Regions from separate parts of the Homo sapiens genome. Here region 1 is linked to region 2. Evidence: fine-mapped expression QTL. Tissue or cell type: fibroblasts. Region 2 holds a variant in brackets; the other region holds the start of a gene. All regions are shown on one strand. Distances are between the middles of the regions. Region 1 holds the start of DSP-AS1 (DSP antisense RNA 1). Region 2 overlaps DSP (desmoplakin).

Region 1 (15,858 bases), 24 kb after region 2:
GGGAGGTGGAGGTTGCAGTGAGCCGAGATCGCGCCATTGCCCTCCAGCCTGGGCAACAAGAGCAAAACTCCGTCTCAAAAAAAAAAAAAATTCATTAAACACTCTCTATATACATCAGCTGAAATGCTGTGTTAGCCATCCTTCAAAAGTTCAGAACTTCAAAAGTTACAGCCTTCTGCAAGGAGTTTTCCATATCACACCTCTGCATCCTCTCCTCTCTTGCATTAGTTTAAACACACCTGGCTACCTGCTCCTGGAGAGCAAAGTCCCATGTCTTAGTCATCTTGGACTCCTACAAACACTTAACCTAACAACATAAATAAGGTTCGGCACACAGAAGGTACTTAATGAATGTTTGTTTGGCTTAGTAAAGTGGAAGAAAAACAAAGGCAAACAAAAGACCCATCTGAGGGTATTATGGCTCATCTCATTACCCTGATTTCAAAAGCTCAACCAGAGAGCACAGCTCTCCCCTCCCCATTCCCACTCCAGCAGTGAGCAAACATGGTGGATTTTTTGTCTCTATAGATTTTAGAAAGACAGCCTCCTTTGATCCTGCATTTTGTCTTCGCCCAGCAGCTACAGAAACAGTACTCTAATAAAAGTTCTGCTTCTTTTCCAGGCGGTTTTCTCGATTTTCACACTGTGTGTTTGGCAGATTGTGTTTGTGGGATAGTGGAAAACTGATCACATATCATTAACTTCAGAAGGACTTTGAAGTAGGGCACAGTTGGAGTCCACGCCCAGCTCAGCCACTTCCAGTTATACAGCCTGTGACCTTGAGCAACTTAAAGTGACATCCACTGGCAGTGCCTGGAGCTTCTGCCTCTGTGACAGGTAGAACACCCCCCTCCTGGGGCTGAGGTGAGGCTCAGAGGGGCACTGCAGAGGCGGAGACCTCACTTAGTGATAGCTCTTACTTGCGGAGGCTGCTGCTGTTGTTATGGTTCTGAAATTTCTTTCTTTCTTTTTTTTTTTCACGGAGTCTCGCTCTGTTGCCCAGGCTGGAGTGCAGTGGCATGATCTCAGCTCGCTGCAACCTCTGCCTCCCGGGTTCAAGCGATTCTTCTGCCTCAGCCTCCTGAGCAGTTGCGACTACAGGAGCCCGCCACCACGCCCAGCTAATTTTTGTATTTTTAGTAGAGACGGGGTTTCACCATATTGGCTAGGCTGGGCTGGAACTCCTGACCTTGTGATCCGCCCACCTCGGCCTCCCAAAGTGCTGGATTACAGGCGTGAGCCACCGCGCCCGGCAGAAATTTCGTTTTTGTGTTTTGTCTTTGCCCCAGTCCATAACTTTAAGGATGTCCTGCAGCAAAATGGAGGCGGGGTGATAAGAAAAAAAAGAGAAAGAGGAAAAGGAAGAAATGGATTGGGTATTAAGTGTGAGGCATTTCAGGAGTTCCTCAGGTTCCCTACAAGACTCAAAAATAACTGAGACAATTCACAGAGAGTGATACACTTTAGCAGCATGAAAGAAACTTATTGAGGGTAAGAAAATTCAAAGGCCAGGTGCACTGGCTCTTGCCTGTAATTCTAGCACTTTGGAAGGCCAAGGTGGGAGGATCACTTGAGCCCAGGAGTTCAAGACCAGCCTGGGCAAGATAGCGAGACCTTGTCTCTACAAAAAAAAAAAAAAAATTTTAATTAGTTGTGTATGGTGGCGCACGCCTGTGGTCCCAAGCTACTCGAGAGGCTGAGGTGGGAGAGTCACTTAAGCCTGAGTGGTCAAGACTGCAGTGAGCTATGATCATGCCACTGCACTCCAGCCTGAGCCACAGAGCAACACCCCATCTCAAAACAAACAAACAAACAAACAAAATGTAATTCCAAGCAGAACCTTTGATCTGTTTGCTGCAGCTTCTCACTAAACTGTCTTCATTTTCATGAAATGTAGATTTCACATTCATGAGCCCTTCCAGCCCAAGGTGTCGGTGGTGAGCCATAAATTATTGGACTGCACTAGTATTTTACAAGATGTCACCTCAAATGAGCAGCTCATGTCTGAGTCTTAGGATCTGTGGGGCCGTGACTTCAAAATCAGAACCACATCTGAACGTTTTCAAGCGGCAGGGCCACTGGGACCAGCCCAGCGGGAGGGAGATGGAGAAAATCAAGGGGTGAGGCACTGCTCCCAGCTGCAGCAACAAGGCCTCCAGACTGAAACCACTCCTTCTAGAACCTCCTGGTCTGGAAAGACTGGTTAGCTGAGAGTCAAGACACACTCTCCAAGTCTCACACCCAAGCCCTCCTTTGCTCCACCCTAAGAAGTCAGCACTGAGGCATCAGGGGCATCAGCAGTTTTTCCCTTTCCAAGACACTTCCATTACCTGAACAATGAAATTATGCCCATATTTAGAGAAAAAAATGACTGTTGAAAGCTGTATTGTCCCATTAAATAGATCTGACTAACAATTAGTTGGCTTAATGCAGAATCAAATTGAGTTTCTTTTTTCCTAAGCAGATAGAAACTCTACAAGAGTATTAATGAAAGAATACAATGATTATGAAATATTTCACAGGAACGCAGACTGAGGAATTCAACAGATTAAAAATAAGTAATAACTCAGATAGAAAAGGGTTTACAAGTAGAAAAGGTGAATTCTCACACTGCAGGTTTAATCTTCTCTTGCGTCATTGTGGTATACTGGATTCAAATCTAGCTTAACAACTTAACTAGCTGTGTGACCTTAGGCAAGCCATTTAAATATTTTAACCTCAGCTTCCCATCTGTAAACTGGGAAGTTTGTTATGAGGCTTGAGATAACAAACATCCTATACAAGGCACATCACAGGTATTTGCTGGGTAATGGTAACTATTATTAACCACAGACCTGATATTTTTATAAAATATACAAGTTAAATTTAATAACCATGTAAATGTTACCTGCCGTATATTAAGCTAAACTAAATCTTGCTTTGCAATAATTTCCCAGAAAAGTGTTTAGACTATCTACGCTATGAGTCACTCGAGCTCTGGGCCTGTTTTCTCAGACTCTCCCTTGTCTCTCGCATCCAATTCTTAGCTGAAGCTGTCACTCCACCTTGGCAATACCTACTTTTCCATCCACTGCCCTCACCCTGGTTCAGACTTTCATTCCCTCCCTCCTTCACTGGTGCAATGGCTTCCTTAAGCCAACGCCTAAACAGTCCAGAAGCTCAGTTATGATCGTCTCACTTCCCTGCTCCTCCAATGGAGGAGACTTTCAATGGCTTCAGTGAAAACCTGCACCAGCTTCCCTCTGCCTATCCAAATCCCTCTCCGGGGCATTCAAGGTCTCCAATGCCTTGGTCAAAAAAGGATGCTTCTTCCTTTCATCTTACTGCCTCCCTGCTCAGAGAGAATGCTCTAAAAGGAGATCACTCCACAGGCTTCGCAGACTTTTCTCATGCTCTTCTCTCCCTCTGGAAGGCTCTCTGCCCACCCATCCTGACACAGCTGAAATACTCCAAAGTCTAGTTCGACACCACTTCCTTTATAAAGTCTTCCCAGTGCCCCCACGACAGATGTTCTCTCACCTCCTTGTGAAGTCTCTGAAGTCACGTACACCCCTCCTGTGCATTCCGCTTTTGCGTGCTAGTCTTCGTGTACTTATCTTCCTTGGAAGGGCCTACACTCCTTTCAAGGCTATAGATTTCCACCTTGATCTCCCCTGACACTTAACACAGAATGCAGTCAATGCTCGGTAAATACTTGCTGAATTAAGGAATTAATGGAATTTGAGATACTTGCATGGTGTAATTACAGGCCTGTCCATTCTAAAAGTCAGGCTGTGAAGGCACAGGGAAAACCAAGGTGAGGATCCTTGGGTCCTCAGGCCAACCCAGCCCTAAGTGGATTCTAGGATCTTCGGCACGTCCTCAGCTTCCTGTCTCTGAAGTGTGCGTGTGGGGTTTCTGCCTAGGCTAAGTGATCCTTAGGGGTCCCCCCGCTCTAAAATTCAGGCAAATTGACCTGTTTGTCTCATAGTAAGAAATAAGCTTCTCTTAAAACCTAATTTAAGACTAACTTTAAAATGTATATGAAATAATGATCACACGTATCTCAGTTTTGAAATCATGAGATCTGAAGAAAAATAAGCATTAATATTATAACCACATATTTCTGAAACTTAATGACTATTTTCTGCTTTTAATCCTCCCACAAATTCACCCTTTGATGGGTGAAAGAAAGATCTAACTGTGAGACTTTGTTACTTTGGTAACAAATTTCACTATTTATAATTTGTTTTAATGACAGGAATAAGACTAGAGTAATTCTGCTGTAATTGAAAACAGTATTAATATAATGTCCTATCCAAGAAGAATCCAAAATTTACATTTCAAAACATGTACATGTCTATTATTTCATTATCAAGGTTGTAACATTTACCAAATGTTAACAAAATTAAGTAGTTGCAGATTCCATTCAATCTAAAACAAAGACACAAAGAACAGGCAGGTGGTCGGGGGAAAAAGAGGGAATTAGGATACAATGAGATCTAATACTGTCCTAAAAACGGGTAAGTGCTGTTCGTGGAAAGGACAGAGAGAGAGAGAGATGTTTTAAAGTCATTTTCAAAGGAAAACTAAGAGTTGGGCCCTCCACACATTCAAATTTCTTTATTCAGGGAAGGGCTAGATACAAAACACTCATCTCAAAAATCACCAATCTATTAATAATTCAGCCATAAAGTAGCAGTTTTTGAAATAAATGAGTTTAAAGTCAACCAATAGTTTTTATACTAGTTTTCATGCTAAAAAAAAAAAAAGAAAGAAAGAAAAGAAAACCACAAAAACCTTTATTTAGAAAACCTTCGGGTCAGAAAAATACTTATGAAATTCTTAATCATCATTCACTTAGCAGAGAGCAGTGGCTCCCTTGGGCACAGAGGGCACCCTGCTTCTACAAAGTGCACGCCACAGCCAAACATATCCCTCCACACAAAACCAGAATGCCACCAGAAAAACTGCGACATGCCCTGCCTTCAGGCGGTCGCTATTATTTGAAAACGCAGAAGTCAGCATTTGTGGGCTATTTTGTAGTCAGTAGCACCACTGCAGGCTGGGTCAGGCTCGAGAGGAACCTCCATTGCCAGGATCCCCGGAAAGAATGACCGCCTCCCGACTCAAGCCCTGAGCTTGACGCCCTGCTGCCGGGCAGAGCAACATTAATGAGAAGAAAAAACATCCTTCCTCAAAGTCAGGTAATTTTTCACTTGGGTCTCTTTCCCCTTCCCAGAGAGATGTGAGACTTGACAAGTTTGTAAGTAGGCTTTAAGTTGGAAAAACAGAGCACGGGATGATACTACACAAGGAAAAAACATGGAGCCTGCCCAAAATTAAATGTTTCAATGGGGAATCCTAATAAAACATGTACCTTGATGCAGTTCATTAACCACTTAATTTATTAAAGTTTTACTCCCCTACAAAAGGTATAAGAAGCCAAGGGAGTGAAATATTCGATTAATAGTACTGATTATTGTCTATTTAAAAGATAAGAAATCCAAGCTAGCAAAAGCATAGTTATAAATAATAATCAAAATAAATACTTGGTTCATGAAAACGCCAAAAAGAGCTACTAAAGAGTCCTTCGCATTCTATTCTGACTTGGATTTAAACTGTGTGTAACCCACACATTTAAAGGATGTGCATCTCAAATCCTGGAGGACTGCGGGAGAAAATTTAAATTTCAGATTTAAATGGCTGGCAAAATTTTAAAACAAATGTAATGAAAACCCAAGTTTTCATTCCTTCTATTGCTTGGCACATTTTCCCTGGAAATCCCCAGACACATTTTGTTCAGGAAACAAAGAACTCCAAGATTGAGACAATTCTTTGCTAACTCAAAAAAAAAAAAAAAAAAAAAAGCGAAAATAGATTTTCAGGATGCCCCATAAATAAATAAATGAATCTAAGCAGAAAACAGGTTGCAACTCGAGTAGTCCCTGCCTTCAAAACTGCTTGCAAAACAAAACTCCCTGGAGCGCATTCAGGTTGCTCCTCCCAGGCCTAGGGCCACAACGCCTGGTAAATAACGTCCCGGCGCTCAGGGCCTCTTTCCCAAAAGCCCGACGTGGGAACAACTAGCAGGGGGCGGGGAGGTGGGGCGGGCTGCAAAACGCGCACGGCTCACGTGGGCATCTAGAGTCCAGCTCCCGAGACCCGGTCAAAGCAGGGACAGGATCTCTTCCCCACCCACCCAAATGACGCCCTCGGTCTGTTTCCGCTGGGATCCGGAGAAGCTGACCCTCTCACCGGGGGGTCTTCCCGGGGCGCCTAGGCCAGGGCGGGCCCCCAGCGTCGTCCTCTCCCACCCCCCCACTCCCCTGCCCACACATTCTGGATCAAAGCAGACATGCGGCCGGCGCTCTGCGATCCAAGGCACACTGGGGTCTTTCATCCGGTGTTTTTAAAAAGGAGGAAACAAAAGGCTCAGAGGCAGGGCCCCAGGTGCGCTCGCCCGCGGGGGCTGCGGCGCGGACGACCGAAGGTAACAGGCACGTCCCGGCCGAACTTCGAGACCCGGGCCCGGCAGCCGCCCCGGCGGGGAAGTTTCGTTTCCCGGACAGGGGAAGCCGAAGCGCCTCCTCGGGACAGGACCCCGCGCCGCCGGGACGCGCAGCCTTGATACAAACGTCCTTGGGTGGCCGAGGAGTCCAGGAGTCGTTGCAGTCGTGGTCTCGGGGTTACTGGGGATTGGGGGTGAGCCGGTAGAGACTGCGGAGCCCCGAGCACCACTCGGCCACCAGACAGGACCGGGGCCCCGCTCCTTTCCTCTTTTACTTTGATTACGGTTGGAGAGGTTGGGTTTTGTGGTCGCAGCCCCACCTCGCCTGACCTCCCATTCGCGGGCTGGGACAAAGGCGGCTGCAGCCGTGTCCAGCAGGCAGGGGACAGCCCCGCGCGGGCCCGACGCCCCCTCTGACCACCCGCCCGGGCTCGCGGGAGGGGAGAAAGGTACGACCGAGTCCCTGTTCGCAGGACAGGGGCCAACCTGTCCCCGCACGCGTCAGGACACCCGGTCCTGCTCCCAGCGCGGCCGGGAAGTTCTTTCGGGACCTGGGGCAAAAAAACCTTTCCACCTTCGGGACCCGAGTCTCCCAGTCGTCCAGAGGAGGACGGTCCCTCCCTGTCCCGCGAGCCCCGCAGCCCGCGCTCTCCGGGCAGGTACCCACCAGTAGCCGTCCGAGTTCTGGTCGGTGATCACGCCGCGCCGAGAATAGTACATCCTGCTGGTGCCCCCGCCGCCGCTGGTCACCTCGTAGCGCAGGTCCGGGCCAGACTCGGCGCGGATCATGCGGCCCAGAGTGTTGATCCGCGGGTGGGAGCCTCCGTTGCAGCTCATGTCGGCGGGCAATCGGGAGAGCGGCTCAGCGCCGAGGCATAAGCGAGGCGGGCCGGCGCGGAGAAAGCGGAGGGGGCCAAGGATAGGCGGACGGCCGGGGAACCGGGCGGGAGTGCGGAAGGCTCGCGAGGTCGCTGCTCGCTACCTGGGCCCTCCCGAGGCCGCTGCGAGCGCGGAGACGGCGACGGGCCGGGGGCAGGAGCGGGAGGAAAGCTGTGGCTCGGAGGGCGGCAAGGGCGCAGAGGAGCTGCGTCGGAGCTGGGTGTTGGTGTTGGTCGGCGGCGGAGCGAGTCTCCTCCCCGCTGGCACTGGGCGCCTAGGCCACACCTGGCCGGTTTCTTCCCAGGGTGGGGTGCGGCCGCCGCGCCTTCCCCGCCCCCCCGCGGGTGTCACCGACGCGCTCCGGCCGCCCCTCCCCACCTGCGCCCGCCGCCCGCGACTCCGCCCTGCGCCACCGAGGCCTGAGTAACACCGGGCGGGGCGGGGGCGGGGTCCCCGAGACCCAAGCGCCCTGGGCGAAGCCACCGCGGGGAGGACCTGCGCTCGCGGGGGCTGCTGCGCTCTGCGCTGGGGCCTCTCGGGCTGGGAATGCGTGGCCCGGCTTTTGAGGATTTCCTCGGTCCCCGGGCGGAAATAGCTGGAATGGAGGGGCCTCTCGATTGGAGACTTACTGGTCAAATATTTACTTTTGTTGATCACTGGAAACGCTACCTACCACGCATTGACTAGGACCACAGTGAGGAGGGAACGCTTTAGATGATAGAGTTTTGTTTGGGGGCTTTTTTTTGTTTTGTTTTATTCCAGGAATTCAGGAAATTGCCCCAGAAGTCCGATTTCTGATGTGTAAAACCTTTTTTTACAGAAAACCACGACTTCCTGGAAAAGTCTTCACCGTAAATATTAATCTCTTTGGCATGAAGAGGAAAACACTGCAGCTAATTTTTCATGGGATAACAAAAATATAAACTGCAATTTCTTTTATTTTTTCCCTTTCGATGGTCTTTTTAAACGAGGAGTAAAGATTTCAACGCCAGGTCCATTTTCCAAATTTTGTACCAGAACCTTGAGGATGCTTGTCTCTCGCGCGCTTCTCCGCAGACCGAACCCTCTCCGGAACTCAGAGCTGTTCACCCAAGTCAGCGGAGGAGGCCTCCTGGGACTTGAGCCTGAGGGTGGCGAAGAACCCTAGGCAGAGATCATCAACTTGGTACCGATGAGTGACGCGGAGCTTGAACATTCCAGCGACTTGCTCCAGGGCCACTCCCAGTTAAGAGGCTGAGTGTTAACTGCAAGAGGCTGAGTGTTAACTACGCCGTTGGCTCCAGGAACCGAACCGGGTTTGGATACAGACCCAGTCACACCATCCATGAAAAGCTGTTTCTATAATATGAAAAATTGTTAAATGACGCTTTAGTAAAAGCCATTTAAAGATCTTTTCTAATAAATTTTTCATCTTTCCAAACAATGCCGCTAATTACCTTCTGATACAGTGCGTTTCCAAAATGTTTATGAACTGAAAACAAAAATAAAAAACTACATTTTTATGTTGTAAAGGGAGTGGGGGGGACTTTCTAAAATTTGTCGTATTATAGCACTTCTCATGACAACTTGACCCTTTAGGCATAATTTTTGACAAAATGTCTTGTTCTTTTTCTTTTTACAGCTGAACGTCTTAAATTCAAGGAGTAAACACATATAATGAGATAAAAGTTTATCACTGTTAGCACAACCAATAATTTGCATCGTAGTCTCAATTTCCTCGAATCTTTAATAAAACCAAAGTGGTCAAGTGTTTAAATGATTATACAGATTGAGTACCCCTTATCCAAAATGCTTGGGACCAGAAATATTTTGGATTCTGGATTTTCTTGGATTTTGCAATAGTTGCATAGACGTAACGAGAGATCTTTGGGGATGGAACTCAAGCCTAAACATGAAATTTATTTATGTTTTCTATATGCCTTATACACATGGCCTGAAGGTAATTTTATACAATATTTTAGATAATTTTGTGCATGAAACAAAGTTTTGACTGCACTTTGACTGCAAGTCATCACATGAGGTCAGGTGTGGAATTCGCCACTTGTGGTCATCATGTCAGTGCTCAGAAAGTTTGGATTTGGGAGCATTTTGGATTTCAGATTTTCAGATTAGGGATGCTCAACCTGTACAAACACTGATCTATAGACAAGACGGTGGTTTTTCTCAAACAGAATCAATGGCTGGAAGTCAGCCTCTGCACAAACAGCCCATAATATCCATTGGTGGAGGAGAGAAAGACATGCATGGAGGGAAAATGTCAGTGCATAATGTACAACATTTCATTTAGGATGTTTTCCCTCTATGCATCTCATTTGTTCAGCAAATAATTATAACCTAGGATATGGAAATACTCTGCAACATACAAAGATAAATAGGGTCCAGTCACTGCCCTTAAATATATTATAGTAAAACTTTGATTTAAGAAATTCAGGGGCCCGTGCGGTGGCTCATGCCTGTAATCCCAGCACTTTGGGAGGCAGAGGCGGGTGGATCACTTGAGGTCAGGAGTTCGAGACCAGCCTGGCCAACATGATGAAACCCCATCTCTACTAAAAATACAAAAATTAGCTGGGTGTGGTGGCAGGCGCCTGTAATCCTAGCTGTTTGGGAGGCAAAGGCACGAGTATCACTTGAATCCAGGAGGTGGAGATTATATTGAGCAGAGATCGTGTCATTGCACTGCAGCCCAGGTAACAGAGCAAGACTCTGTCTCAAAAAAAAAAAAAAAAAAAAAATTCAGGGATTATTCTTCCCTAATGTGTAATAAAGAGGCTACACAATTGCACGGTAGAATTATCCTTTTAAAAAAAACCCACATATCTATTAACCACCCCCCCAGTGGTAACAAAAGCTCTTGTTAGCCAAGGGTCCCCTTACGGTCATAGGAACCAGGCTCCACACAGACCCAAACACCACCCAGACTCACAAAACTGTTCAATCTGCAGGCAAAACAGAGGAGGAGGCGAAGAGCCCACGCCACCAATCACACCTCTGGCTGCGTTGCTTCCTCACCCATCTTACTGCTTCCTGGGCTTTTCCAGGCATCCCCAAGAACACGAACGGCTTCCAGCTACCAAACATGCCTGCTCTAGGAAGACAGTGGCTTTCATTTATCTTTCTCTAAGGGTGATAAAGAAAGATAAGAGGATAAAATAAACAGATTGACATGCCCGACAGATGGAACACCCCCCACCTCAACACACACCCACACACATGCACATACACACACACACACATCAGTTGTCCAGGTTGGCTCATCACACAGTGAAGAGCGAGGATAACTTGCCCATAGTTATAATCTTAGTGCTACAATTTACTTATGCAAGAGCTCAATTTCTTCATGTGTATAATGGAAATAACACTTGCTCTGCCAACCTTCCAAATCCACAGTGAGGGTCAAATGAGATAAAATACGTGAACATTCTTGAACACTGTGAAACATATAAAGCTTAAGGTACCACCTGTTAAGCCAAAAGTTCTTTGCTGGATGCGAAATTTTAACCGTTAATGTTCCTGTCTTTATCCCACATGTAAATCAGTAAACCTCCCTCTTGGACACATTTAAGATGCATTCATTTAGAAAGCAGTTATTGAACATCTACCATGTTACACAACAGATTCAATGCTAGACACATGAAGATGAATAAAGCATGACTCTTTTTCTGCAGGATATCAAAGTCTGCAGTAGTAAAACAAATAATTACAATACAACATTAAGTATGCTATAATGAAGGTATATTTATAGAATTTTGAAAGCGCAGCAAAGAGGTTTAAAAGTAGCTTGTTTTCTTACAACTTGGTTTAAAAAATCAGAATCCAAAGTCTGGCAGAGTCTTCACTGGCTGACCTAAGGTCAGCTATTTTTTCCCTGCCACTCATAGATAGCTCCCCTTGTACTGATAAAACAGATCACTGACAGGCAACTTTCTCTCTGGCTGACCTTAGAAATCACCTTGCAGTTAGGAAAGACGAATCAGTCATATTCAGAGCAGATTTTTAAAAGAAAACGACACTTTGATTTCAGTGAGATTAAGAAGAATCATTTACTTGCTCAAAATCCCATGGGAACTCTCTATATCTTTGTGTTGGTAAATGATACCTCTTCATCACAAGAAGATTTATAGCCCATGAGTTAAAATAACTGTTCTGCCTAACAGAGGAGTAGTTCTGGGGTTTTTGTTTTGTTTTGTTTTGTTTGAGACAGAGTCTCACACTTGTCGCCCAGCCTGGAGTGCAGTGGCATGATCTTGGCTCACTACAACCTCTGCCTTCTGAGCTCAAGTCATCCTCCTGCCTCAGCCTCCCCAGTAGCTGAGACTATAGGCGCACACCACCACACTGGACTAATTTTTGTATTTTTTGTAGATACAGGATTTCACCTTGTTGCCCAAGCTGATCTGGAACTCCTGGGCTCGAGCAATCCACCCACCTTGGCCTCCCAAAGTGCTGGGATTACCGGCATGAACCACAGTGCCCGGCCAAGGAGTAGTATTTTAATAAGTCAAAATTACAGGCAGAAGCTAGGATTGGAACCATAATGTGAAGGAAAAGAAAATGCCTGTTAAAATGTCAGACAATTAAAATCTTAATAATAAAATGGATATGTATATTTTACTCTTTCTTTTCTCTTCCATTTGTCTGAATAAATTAGAATCCTCCAGAAATAATGAATCTAGGATCTGAATTATCACAAAAATAAGATTGGTCTCTCCTAATTAAAATTGTCAAAATGAAGAAAGCTGTTTGACAAAGCTCGTTTCAAAAATAGGAAAATGTTTGTAAAATATATACATTAACCCCAAACTATCTTTGGTTTACTTGGTTTAAGTGTCATTCAGGAACAGGGGAGTTTGTCTGTTTGCAGTGATTTTTCATTTTTGCTGGGGGAGGGTACTTAACTTTGTGGAAATTAAATAGCTCAAAGGAACTTCTCATTTTTTGTCACTGAAGTGATGAGTTTTTATTGTTATTGTTGTTGCCATTTGGTTTGTGTTTGGCACAGGTAAATTGTGCTATCCATTGTGCTTTAAGAATATGTTTTTTGGGCCGGGCACGGTGGCTCATGCCTGTAAGCTCAGCACTTTGGGAAGCCGAAGCAGGAGGATAACTTGAGCCCAGGAGTTTGAGACCAGCCTGGGCAATATAGTTAGACCCCCTTCCTACAAAAATACAAAATACAAAACTTAGCCTGGCATGGCCGTATACACCAGCTACTGGGGAGACTAGAGTGGGAAGATCGCTTGAGCCTAGGAGGTCGAGGCTGCGGTGAGCCAAGATTGAGCGATTGCACTCCAGCCTGGGTGACAGAGTGAAACCCTGTCTCCAAAAAGAAAAAAAATAGAGTAAGTTTTTGACTGCTTTTCATTGGATAGCATGGATATTGGGGATTCATCCATACTTTCCTGCCTGATCCTGTTTTCATGTAGCACCCAGATTTGCAAGATGCGAGGCTGGAGGTTAAAGTTCCCGGTGAGGGCAAGTACCGCTATGGACCACAGAGGAGCCACTCACACCCATGGCCAAGTGACATCTAAAGCTAAACAATAACTCCCACTTACTTTAGTGGGTAAGCCACACAGTCAATAAATATAATACAACAGCCAAGTAAGTTTACCTTTTGAAAATACTTTGGAAGTAATTTTCTAAGCTTATCATGATTGTGAGGGACTCTCAATCTATAGAACATGCTAGGATTGGAACACTTACTCAAACTTATATATATACAAATGCAAGATGCAGATTATTGCTAGTAAACCCAGTTATCAGCAAACACCACATGGAGATATAATGTGCTAATGGTTACGTGAAGAAACTTTTGAATAGCTAATCATCCTTTACTGAAGGCACTCAACATTTATATTCCATAGAGAATTTCAGAAACAGAAGCTTGCTTAAAACATTTTTGCACCAGTTATTTAAAAACTGGTAAAGCCTCAGAACTCATTCTCCAAATGAAACCCCCTGAGCATGGCCACCAGTGGAAACAGATCATGGTGGTGCCAGAGTGGTTGTAGGACACTTCCCACCCGCTGCACCTGGACCACACGTGCTCTGTCCAGGAAAGCATGTCCCCAATGTAAGCACTATATAAACCAGAACTCACCTTTTAATAAAGAGAAAATAGTGAGTCCTGGAGAAGTTAAGAAACGTCCGTGAGTTACTTGATACCTAAAATAGCAGAATTCCATCTGTTTCTAGTCTCATGCCCTTTCCATTATGTCAAAATTCCTGTCCCATCAGTCATGAAAGAACACATTTCTGAGCAATGATTTGGTATCAACTTGAAACCAAGAAATTATCCCATCAATTGTTATTTTCTTACTTTTTTTCCGGAGACAGGGTCTTGCTCTGTTGCCCAGGCTGGAGTTCAATGGGGCAATCCGGATTCACTACACCCTAACTGTCTAGGCTCAAGCGATTCCCCCACCTAGCCTCCTGAGTAGGTGGGACCACAGACATGTGCCACCACATCCAGCTAATTTTTTTATTATTGGTAGAGGTGAGGTCTCACTATGTTGCCCAAGCGGGTCTTGAACTCCTGGCCTCAAGTGATCCTCCTGCCTCAGCCTTCCAAAGTGCTGAGTTTACAAGCATGAGCCACTACACCCAACCTCAATTGTTATTTTCCTCCACTAGAGTAATAAGCCTGCTTTGCAGAAGTCACACCAAAATGCATTACAGTTATTATTGAATTAATGAATTTATTTATTTATTATCTATTTTTAGAGATCTCACTATGTTGCCCAGGCTGGCTTCAAACTCCTGGGCTCAAGTGATCTTCCCACATCCAGCTACTCTTATTTTTTTTAGTTGTATTCCCAAAGCTGTGGTGATTTTCTTGGTGTCCTCAAATTACAGTGCATGTATTTGCATGTTTTGTTTTGTTTTGTTTTGTTTGAATGTAGCTTCCATTGTTAAGAAAAAATGAAATTAGAGATTCATATACTAAACATCATGAAATCAAAATGGACACTAAGACATAAATGATCTGACTTTGGATGATTGTAATGCCAACGAAATGTAACCTGGTTTCCAAAGTGACCACCTTTCAAAATCTTAGGCATCAGCAACAACAAATTTCATAAACCATTTGTTTCTTATCATCATGAGCTAGTTATTGCACATACATTGTTTCCCTGCTACAGATAGAGGTGTAGGTATACGGGAGACTAAAGAATAAGAAAAACGTCCAGATTTCTGTCTTCACTGATCTTAACATTTAAAGCAGGAGACAAAATATCAAACAACCCACTGGTTATAATAGCAACACACAGAAAATGAACATCTAGGCCAGGTACAGTGGCTCACGCCTATAATCCCAACACTGGGAGGCCAAGGCAGGCAGATCACTTGAGGACAGGAGTTTGACAGCAACCTAGACAACATAGCGAGACTTCATCTCTACAAAAAATACAAAAATTAGCTAGCATGGTGGCGCGCACCTGTGGGCCCAGCTACTCAGGAGGATCACCTGAGCCTGGGAGGCAGCGGCTGCAGTGAGCTGAGATCACCACTGCACTCCATCCTGGGCATCAGAGCAAGACCCTGTCTCAAAGAAAAGAAAAAAGAAAGTGATCATTTAAATAGAGCAGGAGCTGGGGGAAGGTCATCTTTAGTTTCAAGTTTCAACTGACTCCCCTCATCTAGGGTCCCAAAAAGTTTGGGGTTTTTTGGTTTGTTTTTGTTTTTATGGTTGTTTTGTTTTTTTGTTTGTTTGTTTTTGCTTTTTTTTTTTTTTTTTTGTCAGAAGCTTGGTAAGATCACAGATCACAGGGAAGAAACCCTATTCAAACTCCTCATCTTATCCTACACTGGCTAAGAGAAGTGAGGCCATGAGAAAGAACCTGCATTACTTGCCAAGGCCCAAGTCTGTAAAGGGCAAAGCCCAGATTGGAGCTGAGAGCTCACACAGCAAATCAATTAATAGGCTTGCTTAGAAGGATGTACCTGAAGTTAGGATGTTTTTTCCTCCTGCTTATAAAAGTCTATGTATTTGCTGTAAAATACTCAGAAAAGGCAGAAGGGAATGGAGAGAAGCAAAGAAAAGCAAAGCAAATTATCAACCAGACAAGGTGATCATTCTAAATATTTTTGGAAGGTTCCTTCCAGTTTTTTCCCCTAATGAACTTTTTAACCAACCAATGTCAGGTTATATACAAGTTTGTATTCAGCTCTTTTTTTTTTTTTTTTTTTTTTTGGAGACAGAGTCTCGCTCTGTCACCCTGGCTGGAGTACAGTGGTATGATCTTGGCTCACTGCAACTTCTGCCTCCCAGGTTCAAGCAATTCTTCTGCCTCAGCCTCCCTAGTGGCTGGGACTACAGGCTCCTGCCACCACGCCCGGCTAATTTTTGTATTTTTAGTAGAGACAGGGTTTCACTATGTTGGCCAGGCTGGTCTCAAACTCCTGACCTCAGGTGATCCACCTGCCTCAGCCTCCCAAAGTGCTGGGATTACAGGTGTGAGCCACCACGCCCGGCCTCAGCTTCT
Region 2 (10,579 bases):
ATTATTGGCTGACATATATACTACAACTTTTTGTTGTTGTCTTGTTTTTCGGCAACTTTGTAATTGACAGAGGTCTAAGGCAGGATGGCAGGTGCATTAGATGCCAATGACCCAAAGCTTGGTCATGAGCACACAGCAGCTTACTACACTACTCTCCCTATTCAGTGTGTGGTTGAAGATTTCGATACTAAATGGTTTAAAGGAATCTGCCATGGACAACCTGTTAAACGAATGTTCTTCCTACAATGAGTGAATATTGATATTAAAGGCATTTTATATTTGTAGCTACATGTATAACAACTGATTTTCTAAGAAAAGGAGAACCTTAAAATGATGCCTTTGAAGTGCATGACAAGTATTATTCACTCTGGCCCCACTACAGTCAGACATTCCTTTTTTTTTTTTGAGATGGAGTTTTGCTCTCGTTGCCCAGGCTGGAGTGCAGTGGCACGATCTCAGCTCACTGCAACCTCCCCCTCCCAGGTTCAAGCAATTCTCCTGCCTCAACCTCCCGAGTAGCTGGGATTACAGGCATGTACCACCACACCTGGCTAATTTTATATTTTTAGTAGAGACAGAGTTTCTCCATGTTGGTCAGGCTGGTCTCAAACTCCTAACCTCAGGTGATCCGCCCACCTCGGTCTCCCCAAGTGCTGGGATTACAGGCATAAGCCACCACACCCGGCCAGATATTCCCTTTTATTCTTCAATAACGACTGTCTATTCAACATAAAATTGCAAGACAAAGTGAAGGTGACCTTCACAAGGTTCCTTTTTTTAGAAGGTGTTTATTATGGCAAGGCATCGTGTGTCTAAGCTTCAGGTATAAACACCTGCCCTCTTCCTCTGCCCTCACATTCATGCGTGCATGCGTGGCTTTGGGAACTTGGATGACTTACTTGCAAGAGAGGTCCACGGCCAGTGGGTTCGGAGGAGGGATGATCAGCCCCACAGAGGGAACAAGCATGTCAACGCCTCCCGGGCCCGTCACGTACCACTTGCTGCGCTCGTTGTTGTCCTTCAGGATACACTCATCCCCCTTATGCACGATTTTCTGTAAGGCAAGCAACCCCAGGGTTTGGCTTTATTCATAAGTATGTGTTTTTATTTTTTTTCTCAATGATGGAAACAGAGATGAACACATGCGAATTATTAAAGCTTTTACGTTTTTCCCCTCAAATGAAGCTGATCATCATACAACCCAACAATACCGATGCTTTAAATAATACATGTGAGCCTAAAAGGTATACATGAAGTGAGCTACATTTTATTTATTTATTTGGTCTCACTGTGTCACCCATAGTGAGAGACATTCACTTTATATGCAACATAAAAGCATCATTTCTCATTTCTTTTATCAGAAATTTAAAGATGAGAGTGATCACAGACAACTTTGACATACTAGAAGAAAAGTATTAAGCCTTGCGAATTTTTAAAAGTTCTAAAAATAACTACTGTCCTTGTTATTGACAACTACCATATGATTCAGAACAGAGCTGCTGCTTTTGTTCCATAGCTGCTGATTTCATAGATCAAAGACATTGACTGTGGTGATTATTGAACTCTAGATTAAATGTTGCTTTCTTGATGGACAAAAATTTGTGTGTAAAGACAGGGAAAACTTTTGTATCATTCTAAATGAGTACACACCTGATCTTGTTTGTAGTCACAGAGAGCTCTGAGAATAATGGGTTTATTGCTTCTGTAGTCTGGGTTACGAGGCTTCAGCTGTACAATCTTCTTAGACTTGTTTACCAAGTTCTGCACCTGACGCTTGTATTCAAGGATTTTCTCTCGTTCTTTCTGCAATGGTGAATAAAATCATACTTAAACATAGATACCCTGTGAGTTTTAGAGGAGATTTTCAACCTGCATTAATGTAGCTACATGACACACTGAGTATCACTGCAGTTGCATCAATTGTAAAAAATCACAAATTCGTCGGCAGGAAACATGAGAACCTTTCATGACAACACTCTCCAGAAGCTATGCAGGCAGGAATTAAGTGGGCAGGGAAGAACATCCTTGTGTGAAAGGGCTATGCTGATAAAATTTGAAGTATGCGTTCCCAAAGGAATTGTCATGTGAAGTAATGTTCTCTCTGTTCTTATTTTCAACCAATTGCCCAGACTGAAGCAAAAGTAACTGTCAAGAGTAGTTGGGCATGTAAAGAAGTTAATTTTGAGAAAAGCCACTGGAAGCTGAAGAAAATGCTTGCTTGGCTCTGGGCGTGCATTGTACAATAATACTAATCAGAGCCAACTGCATCCAAGGCATGTGTTTTATCTCCCTGATCAGGCACAGCTGCTGAGGTTCTGGGTCTGAGACGATACCTCCAGCTCCTTGATCTGTTCCAGCAGGTGCTGCAGGGGCATGTTCTTGTCGCAGGGGTACTTCTTCCTGATGGAGTCCTGGAGCCCCTTCAGGTATGCTTCAGTAGACTGCGCCTCTTCAAAAAACTGTGAAGGATGAGAGTGATCAGTGAATGAACAGCAACTCAATGAGCAATTTCATCTAGTAGTTCTGTTTCAAGGATTGTCATCCCTAAACATCTCTTTGACAGGTGGCTAAAGGAAAAAATTCGTGCAGAAAGTATTTAGGTATGTGGCAGCGGGAAACTATTTGTAGGACTGATGGCAAGGTTGCAAATCTATGCTACTCTGCACTCAAAATCAATGAAGAGGATTTATGCAACATTTTGAAGATTATTTTCAGTGCTTTATAAAACACACTCAAAAGATTAGGTATTAAGACCTAAATAACAACAAAATTATCACTAAATATAAAAACCTGAAAGTAGGCAGCATTTTCTTTCAGATGAACATCAATGCACTTGGTGATCTGAAGAATCCAACTCCACTGCGTCTGCAGAGTGTCCATATAGGCCTGAAACAAGAAAATGTCAGCTGTCTTAGCCTAGCTCAGTTGTACAGATGCATGAACACCAAGAGATAGGTGAGCCTGCATGAAAGCTAGTAAGCAGTTTTTATCTCATTCTAAGTCAAGCAGATATTTTTCTAAAAGTTGGAAAGAGAATTTCTCACCATATATCTCTTGGTATGGTCAAAACTAAATTTTAAAATCAGCTTTCACAAATAGACACCATGAGGAGTCTTAGTCAAAATATGTATCACCCAAATAGCAGAGATACTGACCAATCAGAACTGTCACTGGGGCTAGCACTGGAGTGGCATCCCTTTGCCACACCGAGCCCTGTTCCTGGAGGATTGCTGAATCATGGGGAGGTTCGAGGCATCCAAGCAAAGGGCTTAGGGGGCTCAAGACAGTGATTCTTACCAACTGATATGGAACTTTCTGTGTTTTTTAACAAGCAGTATGGCCATACCAGTGGTACCAGCTAATGTCAGCCTTGAGCGTGGCCCAAAGATGGCAGTCTAGGGCAGCGGTCACCAAACTATAGCTCAAGGGCCACATGTGGCCCACTTCTATTTGTAAATAAAGTTTTATTGGAATACAGGCACACTCATTCATTTACACAGTGTCTATGCCTCCTTCTGCACTATAATAGCAGGGTTAAGTAATTGTAACAGAGACCAAATGGCCTGAAAGTCTAAAATACTGATTGTCTGGTCCTTTCCTGAAAAGAGTTTGCCAACCCCTGGTGTAGGGTATTGATCCCAAAATAGAAAATAAAGTTGGCACGGCTTTAAGTCATATAAGAATTACTCATTTGGTTAGTCTTACTTTATGAAAAGTTTTTTTTTTTCTAACAAAAATATAAACCTCATGAAGCCTACCTCAATTTTGTCTGAAGCTGGATGCTGATTGAGGACAAGTTGGTCACTTTCTTGTTTCAGCTTATTGAGCTCTTTTTCTTTAACTTCCAGTTGACTCATGCGTATCTGTGAATGAAGAAATAAGAAATCCTTTGCAGCAAGTCATCATTAAACTTCCATCACCCCCACAGTACTTTTTAAAAGTGAAATACAAAACTGCATTTTGGAAATGAACAATGCCAAAGAATCACGCTGTTTTCCTCAAGAATCACAGCATTTTTAAGGCTGAAAAGGATGTTTGCTACAGGAGAGGATGTGGCAGAGGCTTACTCAAGATGACACAGGAGGA[A/G]AGAAGAGCTACATCCATCCTGAGGTTTTCTAATCCCAGGCTTCCACCCACCCTCCTGCAGTGCCACACACATCCTGGGTTATCTGAACGTACCAGTTCTTATCCTCTCTAAACAAACTACGGTCTTCTGGGATATTAAACAAGGTATTGCCCCTCTTTTTCTTTTTAACTTTTATTTTAAGTTCAGGGATACATGTGCAGGTTTGTTACACAGGTAAACTTGTATCACAGGGATTTGTTGTACAGGTTATTTCATCACCCACGATTAAGCCTAGTACCCATTAGTTATCTTGCCTGATCCTCTCCCTCCTTCCACCTCCACCCTCTGCCCTCCGAAAGGCCCCAGTGTGTGTTGTTGCCCTCGATGTATCCATGTATTCTCATCATTTAGTTCCCACTCCTAAGTGAGAACATGTGGTATTTGGTTTTCTGTTCCCGCATAAGTTTGCTAAGGATAATGGCCTCCACACGGAGAAGTTTTCAGGAAGGAAGGATTTTTCACGACCATTTCAAAGAAGGCTGAATTGCAAGTGGCTGATTAAATTATTAATAGACCAATCATTCCCCGAGACCCCAGCTCTTCAAGGCAACAGGCTCAAGACAAGCATCTACAGCCGCGTGGGGTGAACTTACGGAGAAGGCCTCCTGTTTCTGAGCGATGTTGGTGTTCTTGTCGCTCCAGTCGTACAGCAGCTCCTCCTCCTCGCAGTCATTGATCCACATGATCTCCCTGGACGTGGCCTGAATGATGTTCTGCAGCTGTCGCAGGTGATCCATCCTCTCAAAGGACGCTTTCTGCACAGGAGGTTCAAAGGCAGCATTAAAATAACAATATGCAGTGACTGGTGTTCTCTGCAGGTTTAAAGATTAAACCTGTGGTCCCTTTAAAAAAAAAATCACACGGATAGGAAAAATGTTAACCTTGTGCATTCACTGACCACCTGGTATGGGAAAAGACCCATCCAAATCTGCAATGAACAAGAAGGCAGCAACTTTTTTTTTTTTGAGACGGACTGTCGCTCTCGTCTCCCAGGCTGGAGTGCAGTGGCATGAGCGATCTCGGTTCACTGCAACCTCCCCCTCCCGGGTTTAAGCGATTCTCCTGCCTCAGCTTCCCGAGTAGGTGGGATTACAGACATGCACCACCACGTCCTGCTAATTTTTGTATTTTTAGTAGAGACGGGGTTTCACCAGTTGGCCAGGCTGGTCTCGAACTCCCAACCTCAGATGATCCGCCCACCTCGGCCCCCCAAAGTGCTGGAATTATGGGCGTGAGCCACCACACCTGGCCTTAAATTTTTTTTATTCTTCTAAATAAGGTCTTTTTTTGGTATTTTTTACTGATATAGTTGTACATATTTGGGGGTACACATGATATCTGGACACATGTATACAATGTATAATGATCAAATCAGGATAAGTGGGATATCCATCACCTCGAACATTTATCTTTTCTGTGTGTTGGGAACATTACAAATATTTTCTTCAAGCTATTTTGAAATATACAATAAATTATCATTAACTATAATATCCCTATTGTACTATCAAATATTAGAACTTACTCCTTCTATCTAACTGTATTTTTGTACCCATCAATAATTAGTTTTGGACTATAAGGGGGAAAATGGACTGTTAGAGAAATCAAGCTTTTCCTACCTTCTCCCCAAAAATTCAAAGTGCCATAAGTCACACCCCAGCCCAATAGGAAAATCACTGTGTCACCACGAGTGACATTATTTAAAAAGTATCATTGCCAACAAGGAAACATTAAAAAGTAAAGATATGATGACACAAATAGGCAAAAGAATGGAAATCTCTCCTCTTATGAATCAAGTAACTGATATGACTGAGTGTCATAAAATTGTGATGACGATCTGGTAGACCTCTATCTTGAGAAAAATAACTTTTATTTTTGCTTACACTTCGTAAAAAAGACCACAATTCACAAGTGGCAACGTTTTCTTGCTTCAACTGCAAGTACTTAACAAGTGCCATTTATGTGACACAACTTGAAAACAGAACAGCAGTAGGGACTGACTTCTGAAAACAACTTTTAGGCCGGGCGCAGTGGCTCACGCCTGTAATCCCAGCACTTTGGAAGGCCAAGGCGGGCGGATCACTTGAGGTCAGGAGTTTGAGACCACCCTGGTTAACATGGTGAACATGGTGAAACCCTGTCTCTACTTAAAAGAAAAAAAGAAAAGAAAACAACTTTTAAAATTCACTTCTAAAGGAAACTCAGCAGCAGCAACAACATTAGCATCGATGAACAGGTGCCTCCCCGCCAGGATGTGCTTGATATTTCTTGAACTGAATTGAATTGGAAACAACAGAAAGTCGATGCACTTGAGAAATAAATCAGCTTACCAGCAGGTTTTCATACTCCTCCTCCAACTGGTAGATCGCAGATTTCTCGCGCTAGAAGACAACAAAAAGCAGGTAGATATAAATCCCCTTGTGGATTGTATAGAAAAGAGTGGCCCTTCTAAGCCTCCTTTTCTTCAGATACTGGCCTCAGATCCCTCCATAGAAAGAAAGAATTACTAGCTCTATGAGATATTTCACCCATGGGGACTTTTTCCTAGGCGGTTGGAAAGCAAACCCTTGCTGGCCTGGCAGCACCGTCTCCACAAAGGAAAGCCCAGATCAGGGTCACTTAAAGACTCACGTGTTAGAAAATTGTCTTAAAGTTTAAAGACATCATTTAGGATTCCCTAGGTCTTAGAGAAATGAAGGAGAAAGTTGGTCAGGGGCTCAGGTGGACAAAAGTAAGCCCCAAAAAGCCAGAAGAAGAAATGAGGATGAGAAGCTATGGTCTCAGGTAAAAAAAAAAAAAAAAAGTTTAGTGATTTACAAGTGTAGAGACCTGCGGGAAACTAAGCACTTAAGATCAGTTATGATTTTATGCTGTAATTCTCAACCCAGTTTCAAGTCTGACTTTTTTCAGCATGGGAGCGGGTGTCGGGATGACATATGGCTTTGCTCAGTAGAAATAATGTTTTAATTACCACCTAGGAAAGGATTCACCAATGACACAAACTACTGTATAAGACTGTTGCATTTCCCCTATTCAAAAAGATGTTCTGCTTACCGCAGAAACAAACTGCCACCCCTAAAGAGACTTATTCACAAACTGCAAATGAGTGTTTGCACAACCTCAGCCTCTGGTTTAACTCCTCTTCAAGTGTTAACATAATCTCTAATAGGGCTACTGATTCCACTTCCCCATTTAAGAAGTGGGATTTCTAAACATTTCCAGTCTTCTGGGAAAGAAATAATAGCAATGTTTCAGAAGAAACTCCCTGGGATTGAGTAATTACACGATCCTTCGGTAGATATTTTGAAGACTCTAAAATGAAACACAGACAAGTACCAGGTCGGCTTTGATTTTGTCCAGCTGCCAGCGATAGTCGCCGATGGAGTTGTGGATGCCCCGGTGGCTGTTAATGTGCTGCTCCACTGAGGCCAGGTCCACACCCCAGGCCACCATGTCCATCTCCGCCTGCGACACAAAGACAAAGAGAGGCGCCCTTTGTTGTTGCCCCTTTGCACCTGTTTCACTTACGCACACCATCACGGCTTTACTTCAGATAGAACCAAAGATGTAAATATGGAGTATTTTTGAAGCCAGAATATTTTTTAAAGGTTCCCAAATGGCTAATGCAGGGTTGCCAAATACTTCCCTCAACTTGCTTGACCCCAGCTCAAGATGGGCAGAGAAGGAAATTTAGAAATGGGAACCTGAAAACCAAGATCATGTCTTCTGAAAAAAAAAAAAAACCAAATCTACCTGTGCACAGGCAAGCAAGCATGTGCACAGAACATATGTGTGCATATATATGTATGATATGTTATAAAATACTCATTTAATCATTCTTAAATGTGCATAAAAAAATCATTAAATAAATGCAATCATACACTGTTCCCCAAACTAAATAGTCAACCTAAAAGCATCTTTCATTGTTTATTTCTTTATATTGTCTTGATGGATGTAATTATTGGCTTTTTAAAATCCAGGATATACCATTCCCTTTTAGGATGCAAAACTCCCTATGGGCCACTTCAAAGGGAAGTCACTATATCTACTCAAGGATTCAATTTCCATGAGTGTTGGCAATATTAGGATTGTGGACTTAAGTTACCTTTTTTAAAAAATTAAATCTGACTAAATTTATTATTTGAGCCTCAAATTTAAGAATGTTTCACAATAAGAATCACACACACTGTTCCGCCAGTTCCACACTGGGGCAAGTCCATTATCTCACCCTTCTTTTGCATGAGTACATGTAAATTTCCAAATCACCTGTGTCATCTCTTGGACATGCCAAGGGCAAACATTCCAATCTGGGATTGCAGCAAGAACATAAAACACATTGTTCTAAGCCACATCCATGTTCTAATACACTTGGCAAGGCTTCAGAAAGGGGAGCCATTTCAGAGTCAGACAACAGAAGGTTACCCGGGACTTTGACCCTTCTCTCCCACAGCTGTCTCGGCTTTAAACCAGAGACAGCCAGGTGCGTGCAGTGGGACATTAGCAACGTGACCAGGCTCCAGCTCAGGCGTCTCATTACCAGCCAGGTGTATCGTATCTGACCTGTCCATCGGCAAACACAAATCGGGAAAACAAAACAAAAACCTGGCTCAGGAGTGCCTGCCTCCTGACTGGCTGCTGGGGCAACAGTTCCCTTATCAGCTGGGCCCTGCAGCTCAGTCTCCTGGGAATGAGGTAAAGCATGCAGGGGAACAAGCGATAAGAGGAAAGGAGCCACAGCAAATCCCAGAGCGAACCTGCAGTAAGCAATCAAACAGCTTTTAGTTTGTTTGCAACCATGAGGGCTGCGTGCCTAACCCGGAAAGCATCGCTTATCAATTGCTTCTGTTAGAAAACGACATAAAACTGGCTGGGCGTGGTGGCTCACACCTGTAAACCCAATACTTTGGGAGGCCAAGGCGGGCGGATCACAAGGTCAGGAGTTCGAGATCAGCCTGACCAATATGGCAAAACCCCCGTCTCTACTAAAAATGCAAAAAATCAGCTTGCCATGGTGGCACACGCCTGTAGTCCCAGATACTCGGCAGGCTGAAGCAGGAGAATTGCTTGAACCCGGGAGATAGAGGTTGCAGTGAGACGAGATCATGCCACTGCACTCCTGCCTGGGCAACAGAGTGAGACTCCCTCTCAAAAAAAAAAAAAAGAAAATGACATAAAACTGAATTCATGTGGTAATACTTTTCCAAAATTTAAAGACATTGAGCATTTACTACATTCTTAAGCTACACCCAACATAAATACAAAAAAATGACAAATTACAGGCTGTCTTTTTTTATAACTGTCATACTAAGAAAACTTTAGGAGATATGACATTTCAAACTAATTTGATTGGAAGGCTGTTTTGCCCATCATTGTGGATCCTTAAGATGTAGTTAAGCCCCATCAGCTCCGCTATGTCTTCCTGTGACTGTTCCACTCCACAGGAGCTGGCCACCCTCCCCTCTAACTAAGCAAGAATGTATTATAGCTGATCTAGACAGAAATTTGGCATTTGAGCGTATGCATCTTGTTTTCTTCGATAACATTCATTTTCAGGACTAGGGACCATAATCTTTGTACCCTTGGGTGGCACTACATATAAAATCCTCAAGAAATGTGCTCGAAGATTAGAAGGAAATTTGAAAAACATACAAATAGATTTGTATTTAGGTTTCTGATATTTTAACTGACTTTTGTTCTTTCTAAGCCTTACCTTCTGTAATAGCTTATATTCTTTATAATAAATGGGAGAAAAAGGTAACTGAATGAATGAATAAATGTTTAGTCACTGAAGTCCTCACTACTTAGGAAAGAATACACAAAAATTTTAAAGGAGTTGAGAAATTTTAGAACCACTGCTGAATTAGTCTAACAACTAATCAAACCAAGCTTTCTTACAACCACATCTAAATTGCATAACAATCTCTCCACAACTTATCACTCTAACACATCCACATTCTCAAGGGAAGGGTTAGGAGTAGGTTTTCATTATAAAATTCCCATCTACATGATTGTGGCATATTTCTACCACCACCTGTTCATTATAGGACATAATGACTACATGAAACAACACAACAATCATTAGTCTTGAAAAATACTTTGCAGAAACTCCAGTTCTAGGGAAAGGATCAGCATATCCTTCCAACATTATTTTGCTTCACTCCCACACTGGTGACGTGATGGTTGCACAATGAGACAACTGAGACTTCAAAAGTCTAAGGTAAGCAACCAATGAGCCTAAACCAGAATGGCTAGTTTCACTGTTTCCAGCTCCTCCAATCTATGACCATTTTAAATGAACTGCCACAATGGGCTTTTTTTCAAGTACCTATGAGTAAAACAGATGAGGTCAGTTGCCACTCACATAGAACAATGAAGTTATTTAGCACATAAACTCCCACAACAGATCTTTCCGGTGGTCAATATAAGAACTGGATATTCAAAGTCTACTAACTAAAT

What was found.
Region 1: DSP-AS1 starts here. The variant in region 2 is fine-mapped to the expression of DSP-AS1 in fibroblasts (GTEx, PIP above 0.99).

Annotation. Positions count from the first base shown.
Region 1 is chr6:7,533,385-7,549,242 of GRCh38, reverse strand. It overlaps DSP-AS1 (DSP antisense RNA 1), which reads left to right and starts at 6,160. Exons shown (of 2, transcript NR_183331.1): 1 at 6,160-6,197; 2 at 8,190-8,792. DSP (desmoplakin) reads right to left here and starts at 7,572. Exons shown (of 24, transcript NM_004415.4): 1 at 7,158-7,572. The coding sequence starts at 7,327. RefSeq lists an enhancer at 9,584-12,362.
Region 2 is chr6:7,559,661-7,570,239 of GRCh38, reverse strand. DSP (desmoplakin) reads right to left here. Exons shown (of 24, transcript NM_004415.4): 5 at 7,460-7,588; 6 at 6,454-6,504; 7 at 4,720-4,881; 8 at 3,759-3,863; 9 at 2,791-2,886; 10 at 2,334-2,459; 11 at 1,651-1,803; 12 at 900-1,054. Among named protein-coding and RNA genes, the nearest start is that of DSP-AS1, 22 kb to the right of the region's middle. RefSeq lists an enhancer at 7,738-9,313. The variant A/G (reference allele first, on the strand shown) is at 4,087.